Linked DNA regions of Homo sapiens: region 2 is linked to region 1. The links come from fine-mapping of genetic effects on gene expression. A gene starts in region 1. The other region holds a variant in brackets. All regions are shown on one strand. Distances are between the middles of the regions.

Region 1 (5,379 bases):
CTTAAGATTTCTCCCCTGCAAAAGGCCTTAAAACCATTTTCTATACCCATATAATGTTAAATCGGTGGTACTTCCTTATTTCCCTAACTGAAATAATACCCTTCATTTTTGGTGTCATTTCAAACATAACCATAACTACTTTGGAGGAAGTGGGTGTATCACTCCTGAGTTTTTGAGAGATGTTTCCGTAAAAGCAAAAGCAACAACAACAAAAAACCCCACACAACCAAAAGACGCCTTTAACTTCCATTTAAAAGAGAATTGGTTTTTAAAAAGCTAACCACTGTTATACATATCTGGCATATATATGGGGACTGCCGAAGCCAGACAGTTGGCAAAAATATGTAAGCCATTTTTGCTCCAAAGTTAGCTAGGATCTGTGGGGAAGTAAACAATAGCTTGCAAGCCCCTGAATGTAGTGCCACTCAAAAATTAAAGAGGAATCGCACTATGCACATTTAATTTAGCAAGTCAAATTACTGCATATGCTGGCCAAAAAATAAAATAAAATAGCAACTTAAATACCAGCAGGATAAGGGCAGTGGCTCACACCTGTAATCCCAGCACTTTTGAGAGGCTGAGACTGCAGAATCACTTGAGCCAGGAGTTCGAGACCAGCCTGGGCAACAAAGTGAGACCCCGTCTCTACAAAAAGTACAAAAACTTAGCCAGGCATGGTAGTGTGTGCCTGCAGTCCCAGCTACTCAGGAGACTGAGCTGGGAGGATCACTTGAGCCCCAGGAAGTCAAGGCTGCAGCAGTGAGCTGTGATTACGCCACTGCATTCCAGCCTCAGCGACTGAGCAAGAGCACGTCTCAAAAAAATCATCATCATCATCATCATCATACCAGCAATTCTGCCTGCCACTTTCCACTTTGTAAGCACATGCTCCAAAATGAGCCTAAGATAGGGGTTTGTCTTCCTCCTTTTAAGCCTCCTCAGGGCAAGCATCTCACAGCGCATCACAACTCTATGGCTTTCAAATATGCTTATTTGCACAACACAGCCCCTAAAGGTAATCTAATTACTTATCTGGGTTACAACCAAAGCAACAGTAACAAGTTTCAAAACTGAAGGAAAAACCGTCCAGGATGTAGTCAGAAACAGGATGCTAATCTCAAGCGTTGCACCTTCCTAGGAATTTTTAAGGGTTAATTTTTATTACATACAATGTTTGCCTCACGGGCTGACTTAAAAACTTGACTCCCACATGAGCTACACAGAAAACTGTGCAAGAAGGAAAGGTTTTCACAAACACACTCACACCTATGAATTACTGAAGTCCCTGCTCTGTGTTGACCTGCAGTGCAGTATGTTCAGATCGCTCCCGTTCATCTACGGTGTAAACTTCTCCAAAACATAGCTTCTTATTTACACAGGAAAGCTCTGAAGGGCAACTAATGATAAAGCCACAGGAAAGTTTTCTCTGCAAGCAATCAAGGCCTTGCTCGGGAAAAGAAACGTTGAGTCTGATTTTGTTCGTTTAAGCCCAAGTGTACAAGGAAACAATAAACATCACTTCCTTATTCTAGAGGACTGAACAAAGGCTTTGCCGTGCATAGATATGATAGAAAAGGAAGTGGCACGTTTGAAGAAATAAATAGCAGCAGCGTTTAAGAGGATCCTCTGACCCTCCCTTACCTCCAAACAGTGTCTCAAGGCACTGCCCTGGATTGAACCGCAGTTCAAACTTCTTAAAACCACCCGAATGGCCCAGGTCTGTGAGTTGGCTCCTCCATTCATAAAGCCATAGAACACCAAGAAAAAGTTATGGGGCCGCAAGAACTAAGGAAGAGGCGGCGATTTAGAAGGGGGAGGCCCGCAAGATTCCAAATTCAGGTCCTCCTCCCCACTACTCCGTCTCCCATCATCATTCTCTTCTCGTTTATCATCATCCTTCCACTTCAAATCACACTCAGTCCTCCTCCTTCTGACACGCCATTCTTCTTCTGTTTTTGTTTGGTAAAGCAAAGTTAAAATTACGGGCCTTAGGACTAAGATAACTAAGTTCGAAGCCAGGCCAGGCCACGTAGTAGTCGTGTGTCCTTGCATAAGCCACTTAATCTATTTCGTGCCTCGGTTTTCCTATCTTGTAAAATGGGTTTGATAACAGTACGCACCTCGGAGGATTGGAGTAGAAGTTAAAATGAAGCATATGAGATGCTTTGTAAAGTCCCCGCACATATTACTCGAATATTATCGTGTGACGGTGGCCATTATTATTACTACTCTTTGCTGGGGTTCCTCTCCTCCTCACACACCCTGCCCCTTACACACGCCCCCACTCCCCTTCCCCCTACAGACCCCCAATGGTCTCTCACACTCTTTCATCTTACGCTCCTCTTTCCGGTAAGCGCAGGCCCGCTTACCGGGACCGACAGGGCCCGCGAAGCGCTGGCTGGCGGGCTGACGAGCTGGCGGGCTGGCGGGCTGACTCCCCGACGGCGGCGACGGCAGCCCCTGGCCCGGAGCTCTTTTCCCTCTACCCCGGATCTGCTCCTAGAACCGAACGAGCCAGTGAGGTGAGCGCCCCCGTGCCCAGAGCGGTCTTACGTGCCTCCCACCAAACAACCGGACGGCACCACTCTACCCACCCGATCCGCCCGACTCGCCTGCTCTCTAGAGTCACTCCAGACGCGCGCGCGCGCCTGGTCACGCCCGCTCCTCCCCCTTTGCGCGCCCCTGCGACTCCGTGCGTGTTCGCTCTGCCTGTGAGGTCGCGGGAAGCAGCGCGCAGGAGCAGAAGTAACAGGGTGCCGCCGAATAGGTGGGGAGTGGAGGCCTGGAAGCACGCTTGCGGAAGACGGCCCGCCTGCGGCCCTCTTCGCGTGATTAGTTGCGCTCGCTCAATTTAATCATGATTCTTACTCCTCCATTTTGGTCCTCTTTCCGAGCGAACAAGGAAGGGGCGTGGTCTAGAACTAGCGCCCCCCCCCACCCCCCCGCCGTGGGCGCGGCCTGGAAAAATCCAAAGGCCGAGGAAAGGGCGTGGCCCTTCGAACAAACCCCTCGAATTACCACGCCCCCTCCTCCTGGCTTTGAAGGACCGTTAAAATCGTTGGCACGAAGGGATTTGTGAAGAGGCTGACGGAGAAAGAGGCTGTCGCGACTTTCTGTTCTAACATGGCCCCGTAGATGTCTCACAAAGCATCTATCCTACGGTTCCTTTCTGGCAAACAATTAGTTGGGGGTGGGGCGGCTCCCCAAAGCCGAATGTGGGTGACGTCCGCCAAGGCCCGCCTACCTCCCGGCCTCACCGAGCAGAGCGAGGAACATTGCCATAGCAACTGGCCCGCCAGGGTCTGCTCGAGTTACAAAGAGGACGGCGCCTCCCGTGGGCACGGCGCCTGGCCAGCGCAGGCGTCGCCGGGCTCTTCAGAGCTCCAAAATCTTTGCGGACGCGCAGGGAGCTCGCCAGATTTTAGTGTCGAGACCCACGGGCTCAGGCCTCGCCCAGGAGCTTCTGAGGCCCCTCTGCCAGCCCCTTGGTTCCCTCTTAATCCTGCTTGAAGAGAGGGCTCTTGACCGACGCCGGCCCTGGGCAGCGTGTGGCCAGCTGGGGCGCGCCTCCGCCTCGTGTTCTCCGCGGTGGGAGAGCAGACAAAGCGCCCGCTTCCTGCACACAGTGTCGGCGGCGGGCCGCCCTCAGCCACTCCCGCCAGCGCTCCACCCCTGTTCCCGAGAGGACGTGGGGGCTGCCCCAAGCACGGTTCTAGTTCTTGTCCCAGATGCTTGTACTTGAGAGGCTGTTGATAAGAAAACGGCAAATGTACCCCTAGTGACGAGGAGAGGGGCTTCTACTATTCACTTTGCACTTTTAAACATTTCCCCCTAAGGGGATTCTCCAAAATCCTCCAATTCCTAGGCTGGATGCCGAGCTGGCCTTGAGCGGCAATTTCAAACGGGATTCCCAAAAGCTGTTCTCCAGGGAGGTGAACTAGCTCCAGCCTCCAGGATAAGAGCATCAAATGCACTTTCTGAACTCCAGTCCTCCTCTTCTCCCCCCCAAATGAGTGTCTAGCTCCTTATCTGCAAAATTAGGTTACGAATGGCTGTCGTGAGCTTGTGAAGATTAAATAGTTAATAATTGGAAAAACACCCCGCACCGAGGAAGATATAAAAGAGCGTTCAATAAATGGCATGTCTCAGTTTGCTCTCCCTAAAACAGTCGATTTGGGGCCGGGATTGGTGGCTCACTGAGCCTGTAATCCCAGCACTTGGGGAGGCCAAGGCAGGCGGATCACCTGAGGTCAGGAGTTCAACACCAGCCTGGCCAACATGGCAAAACCCTGTCTCTACTAAATAATACAAAAATTAGCTGGGCGTGGTGGAGGGCACCTGTAATCCCAGCTACTCCGGAGGCTGAGGCAGGGAGAATTGCTTGAATCCAGGAGGCGGAGGTTACAGTGAGCCTAGATCGTGCCACTGCACTCCAGCCTGGGCGACACAGCAAGACTCCCTCTCAAAAAATAAAAAAATAAACAGTGATTCCGTTGAGGGATACACTGATAAAGAAGGCAGGCAAGTGCCCCATCCCCCAGTCAGTTCTATGGGTTTCTTTTTTTTTTTTTTTTTTTTTTTTTTTTGAGACTGAGTCTCGCTCTGTCACCCAGCCTGGAGTGCAGTGGCGCGATCTCGGCTCACTGCAAGCTCCGCCTCCCGGGTTCACGCCATTCTCCTGCCTCAGCCTCCCGAGCAGCTGGGACTACAGGCGCCCGCCACCATGCCCGGCTAATTTTTTTCTCTTTTTTTAGTAGAGACGGGGTTTCACCCTGTTAGCCAGGATGGTCTCGATCTCCTGACCTCGTGGTCCGCCTGCCTCGGCCTCCCAAAGTGCTGGGATTACAGACCTGAACCACCGCGCCGGGCCAGTTCTGTGGGTTTCTAACGTGCTTTCTTCCACTTGTAATTTAGAGTCAGAAGAGGCTAGCGCTGACAGGCAGGCAGTAGTCACATGAAAAGCGGCCTCCCCAATCCTTTCTTGGAATTTTGTTTTTTCCTGTGGCACTGGGCCTGGTGTGTGCTAAAACAAACAGGAAACACCATGTCCAGCCTCACTACCACCCCTCACCCAGAATTGGGTGTTCGTTTCTCAAATTATTGAAAATAGATATAAAGCAAACAGATGGATTTTATTTTAGGAGAAGTTAGAGTGTTACTCTTTTTTTTTTTTTTTTTTTTGAGACAGAGTCTCGCTCTGTCGCCCAGGCTGGAGTGCAGTGGCGCAATCTTGGCTCACTGCAAGCTCCGGCTCCCGAGTTCACGCCTTTCTCCTGCCTCAGCCTCCCTAGTACCTGGGACTACAGGCGCCAGCCATCACGCCTGGCTAATTTTTTGTATTTTCTTTTAGTAGAGAAAGGGTTTCAATGTGTTGGCCAG
Region 2 (5,379 bases), 110 kb before region 1:
GAATTTGCATTTTTAAACAAATTCTTCAAGTGATTCTAAAAAAGGTTTTCTACAGAGAACATTGAGTCTCTTGTTTCATAAATGAATGAAATGGAGGCCAGCAAGGGAAGAGACCTATCCAGTCTTCTTTCTGGCTAATGAGAATGCACAGACTAGAATGAAGGTTACCTTTTAATATTCCAGTGTTATTTCCCTGACTCCATGCTACAACAGCTTAGGACCCAGAATGAATCTGTCCTACACCTTGGTTTATTCCACTGACCCCTGATGTCTTTTTACCCATGCATTAGGTTAACTGGAGAGACACAAAAACCCAGCTGTATACTCAAAAGGTATGCAGAACCAGCTACTTTAGAAACCTTTCAATCATAGCCCCAATATTTACATGCTGTGTGACTTGTGATAGTTATTTGAATTCTGTGTGCTTCGGTTTATTCCTTTGTAAAGTGGTAAAACAAAAGCTACATTTTCAGGATGTTGTGAAGAATTATGTAAAATACTAGCACAGAGCTTGCAAATAACAAGTTCCCAGTAAACAGTAACTATTATTAATGCCATCTTAAAACATGGCAATAAAACTACATTTTTTCATTCTCCTAAAGCCGTATTCTCAAAGCGTAGTCCCCTACAACAGAATTACCTGGAAGTGTTTGTTTAAAACATAGATTTCTGAAACCAGCCCCCCATAAGACCTAGTGAATTGAATCATTGGGGTGGGGCCCAGAAGTCTGCATTAACAAGCAAGCATCCTCGATTCTTCTTTTGCATGCAAAAGTTGGACTAGGGCTGTAGACAAAGAGTACTTCTTCTTAATGAAGACGTGTATGAATGAGAGGGAAGCAGTGTTGAACACTCTAATTTGAAACTAACAATTTTCTGCTAATAAAAGGTTGAGTGCCACCTACTGCCCCATTTTAGAATGCAATGCTGAGATTGGTTCAATTCCTCTCTCAGTAATTGAATTTACCCTGAAAAATAAATCAATCCTAAACAAGATATCCAAACAATATAAAGCACTGTTGGAAGAAGAAATAAAAACAGGCTTTGCTTAACCAAAAGAAAATTTTCAAAGTTAAAGGTTTTTGGAGTTTTAGATTCGTATATCTAATAAACTCCTGTAGTTTCGAGTTACTGCTAAAACAGTAAAGGAAAATATAATTTTTGACTCACTGGCCTGTGCCAACAGTGAAAGGAAAAACGGTACCACTGAACACCCTAAAATACTGTAATGAAACAACATGCAGCCACTCTAACTTCCCATGGTCCCAAGAGAAAATTAAGTGAAATAAAAGCAATTTTCTTACCTCATAACACTGTATTCAAGTCCAGTATCAAAACAGCCACCTGCAGGACACTAGTTGGAAAGTTAACATTCCCTTTCAAAGTTACTCCAAAAGCCTTTTGAAATATAGTCTGTTACTATGTTTAAAGCTGATTTCCCCTTCCAAGTCGCAAATGCATACAAATATGCCCAGAGGCTCAAAAGAAATGGGCAAAGCCTTATAAATATTCATTTACAACTAGCAGTTATACACTGTTTCAATAATTCAATGAGAAATCATAAAAAGCATTTGCCTTCAATTTTTGTTTATTTTTAGAAAATAAATGGCAAAATATATACACTGTGGAGTCTGAATCTCCTCATCATAGAGTGTGAACGATGGTCCGGCTGCGAAGCTGCTGAATATACTCTTTGGCATGGGCAACTGCCGTCTTTGGTGGCTCAGGTGGAGGTGGGGGCCCTTCCACCAACTTCACAAAATAATGGCAATAAACCTTCTCCATGATCCCAAAGCGACCTCTGCCATGGTAGCGGATGCGTTTCAGGCACTGGCCTCGTCCTGAGGTGGACTCAGCTAAACAGGAAGAAAAAGAGAATTACAGGAAATGAGTGTTATCCACAAGCCTGATCAGCTGAGCAATTTCTGTCCTTTCCTTGACTGGATTCTGAGATTACATGGGCTCACTGGTTGGCTAGAGCAGGCTTGTCTCAAAACAACTATCTCCTGAATGCTAACTAAGGACCAGGCACTATTCTAGTGTTGGAGAAGTAAGAGTGCACAAGACTGGCAAGGCCCCTGCCTCCAAGCAGTTTACATTCTGGAGAAGAAAGA[C/T]GTAAAATAAAATGATAATTTCAGCTAGTGACAAGTGCTGTGAATAAATCAGAATGAGATGACAGACAATGATGGGGTGTAAGGGACTTCAGACTGGGAGTGTCAAGAGGCATCCCTGAGAAAGAGACATTTGATCTAAGAGCAGAATGAATCATCTATTTGAATATCTAGGGACAGGGTATTCCAGGCAGAGGAAACAGCAAGTGCAAAGGCCCAATGGTGGGAATGCACTCGGCTTGTTTTAGGAAAAGAAAGAAGACTACCATGCTGAAGCATAGTAAGCAAGGGGAAGAGAAGCACAAACAAGGAAAAGAGATTAGAGATAAAGCTAGGGCAAGATTACACAAGGTCCTGTAGGCTCAGGCAAGGAGTTTTTTATTTTATTCTAATTGTGATGAGAAGCCACTGGAGTCAATGGCTCCCAAATGCTGGTTCTCTGACAAGCTACATCAGACTAACCTAGGGAATGTAATTAAAATGCAGATGCTGAGACCTCACCTCTGTGGATTCTAATTCAGTATATCTGGGGTGGGCCTTGGAAATTACATCCTGGGCAAACACCCGTACCCCAACTCTCCCCAGAAATTCTGACTGACAGCCAGTTTTAGGAACTCTGGCACAACGGCCCCTTCAGCTCCCCTCCCCCATTCTGTATATCAAAATTTGACCTTGAAAGTGTAAAGAAATCTTTTAAATAGCATGTAAGGGCCAGGCGCGGTGGCTCACACCTGTAATCTCAGCACTTTGGGAGGCCAAGGCGGGCGGATCACCACAAGGTCAGGAGTTTAACCTTGGCCAACATAGTGAAACCCCATCTCCATTAAAAATACAAAAAATTAGCCAGTTGTGGTGGTGGGCACCTGTAATCCTAGCTACTTGGGAGGCTGAGGCAAGAGAATCGCTTGAACCCGAGAGGCAGAGGTTGCAGCGAGCCAAGATCCACCACTGCACACCAGCCCGGGTGACAGTGCAAGACTCCATCTCAAAAAAAAAAAAAAAATAGTACATAAGAAGAACTGTTCACCTGTTCACCCACAATAAGTCAGAGTAGTAGCCATCTACCTTCTACTATTTTCTGAATGTATTTAGTCAGCTACTTGTTTAGTTAATAAGCCTTTTAAAAAGGTAAAATCTACAGAATACATATCAAATTATCCATTTCAACACTCATCATTCTTATACACTTACTGTGACATACTTTATAAATATAGGGACTATACCAAAGTATGCACTTGACAACTCTCTAACTACGATATCCTCTAGTGAAGTGGGTTTCAGCAGAAGCTTCCTAGCTTTGCCAAAGAGAAAGCCAAGAATGAAAGTGAAAACTGCCTAGGGTCTAAGTGAGATAGGGAAAGACCTACTGCCCTTTTATTAACTTCATTTAGTGGGCACTGAAAAAATGAGTTTACAAATTTCCAGAGAAAGCAGCATTACACAAATCACTTTATAAGGAAACCCCATCACGGCGCGTCCCCTGGATCAACCTGTCTAGAGGAAACCTACAAATAAGAACAGTGAGACCAGAAAACTTCTAAAAAGCATTTTACAAATGTGATAGCTGCTTCTATCCAAAATCATTTCTCTATCCAACTTGAGCACCAATTTCCAAATACTCAATGGATCACTAGATCACAATGATCAACCCCATCACGGTCTACGTCGGCTCCCATTTCCCTTCTATCTCCCCCAAAACACAAACTTACAGAGATCTGCACAAAAGCAGAAGCTCAATGCCTGCTAACTGTCAGTCATGATTTCATCTTAAAGCCATAAAAGATCATCTGCATATCTTAAAGCCATGATGCCATCATTTCTTTATGTCAAAACAAAAACATTAATTTTTCTGAAACATCCTAAGATTCTTTAATACACCGTAATGGGAATACCCAACACAGCCACCCTGAGGTGTAAATGAAATCAGGACTTAGAACATAGTTGCCAAACTGTTTCCTGGTTCCTCTCCTCCAATCTCTCCTCCACTAAGTCCATATTTAGGGGTTTCAAACTGCTTTTGTATATGGAATCATTTCAAGTAAAATGAAACAATATGTAGAAGCCTGATATATATAACACTGTAATGCTGATCTGCTCCTATTGAAACGTGGGTCAAGGAAGACCCAAAACTCTGCCATTCATTCACTCAACAAACATTTTTTAGTTCCTCCTGGGTACCAGGCTCTGTCCTGGGCTCCAAGGATATAGTGGTGACCAAGATATCAAGGGTCCCACTGCTAAACACCCCACAGAGCACAATTTCAAAACTACCGCTTATTGTTAATACTTTTAAAACACTATCTTAATAACATAAATCTCTTACCCAAACCTCTTTGATATAGTTTGAACCAAATACACAGCCTGCCATGTTCAGTTCTCTGGAATATAGGCCCAATCTACCCTTCCCATTTTATCTACTCGAGGTCAAACTTCTACTTCCTTCACACTGTTCTCCTCATTGTACTACACTATTACTGCTTATTCCAACCTATGTGCCTCTGCATGTATGGCCACCCCACTTTAAAAATCTGCTCTTCTCCTGGAAGAGCATTCCTCCAGACTCCCAAAAGCCTATCTTCACATGCCAATTTTTTCTAGAAAGTCTCCACGACTATTCTAACCCATATTGACCTTTTCTTCTCTACTCCAACAATACCATTTGTCTGTATTACTCTTTTTGGTCCCAAATCATATGCTGTCTTTATAAGCATCTGTGTTTCATCTGTAAAAGTCACCTCCTCAACCAAACTTATACCCTTTTTGTATTGCCCCAAAAGTTCATGATCCATAGAAACAGAAATAATTTTGAAATACATCATCTGCTACTTAATATCATTTTTTCAATACAGAGGTCTCTGGTAAATCTGCTCAAATTCTGAAATAAGTTTCAAAGTTTTTCAAGTACATATAATATTAATGGTATACACAGTATTATTATACTTCAGAAGAACAATGTATGCATTCTTCCAAAGAAATACTACTGTCAAAGAACTACAAGTGTTAAATGTTTTAAAATGACACAAAAGATATAACATCACCTATTTAATGTGGATAGTATGCACACAGAAAGTACTCAAATACTTTTTGAATGAAAGAATACATTAAGATATCTCAAAAATGAAGACAACCTGTGTTTTTCTATAGATAATACCCAATAGGTGTAATGAATTTAAAATATTGCCAATATTTTCAGGGCAGGCACAGTGGCTCACGCCTGTAATCCCAAAATCTTGGGAGGCCGAGGCAGGTGGATCACCTGAGGTCAGGA

Alleles and levels. Positions count from the first base shown, and alleles are read on the strand shown. Sizes are in standard deviations (SD) of each study's normalised expression.
As copies of C replace T in region 2, the expression in lung of the gene that starts at base 2,511 in region 1 goes up (moderate effect, 0.56 SD a copy in GTEx).

The links. PIP is the estimated chance that this variant, and not a neighbour inherited with it, causes the effect. A credible set is the group of variants that fine-mapping cannot tell apart.
Region 2: its variant is the best candidate, but not a certain one, in a credible set for the expression of CNOT8 in lung (GTEx, PIP 0.63).

The regions. Positions count from the first base shown.
Region 1 is chr5:154,855,759-154,861,137 of GRCh38, reverse strand. CNOT8 (CCR4-NOT transcription complex subunit 8) reads right to left here and starts at 2,511. Exons shown (of 7, transcript NM_001301073.2): 1 at 2,370-2,511. RefSeq lists enhancers at 1,203-1,705, 2,209-2,711, 2,667-2,836, 2,712-3,215, 3,216-3,717 and silencers at 2,247-2,306, 2,367-2,466.
Region 2 is chr5:154,963,163-154,968,541 of GRCh38, reverse strand. MRPL22 (mitochondrial ribosomal protein L22) reads right to left here. Exons shown (of 7, transcript NM_014180.4): 7 at 1-1,856. The coding sequence ends at 1,645. Among named protein-coding and RNA genes, the nearest start is that of MRPL22, 25 kb to the right of the region's middle. The variant C/T (reference allele first, on the strand shown) is at 2,115.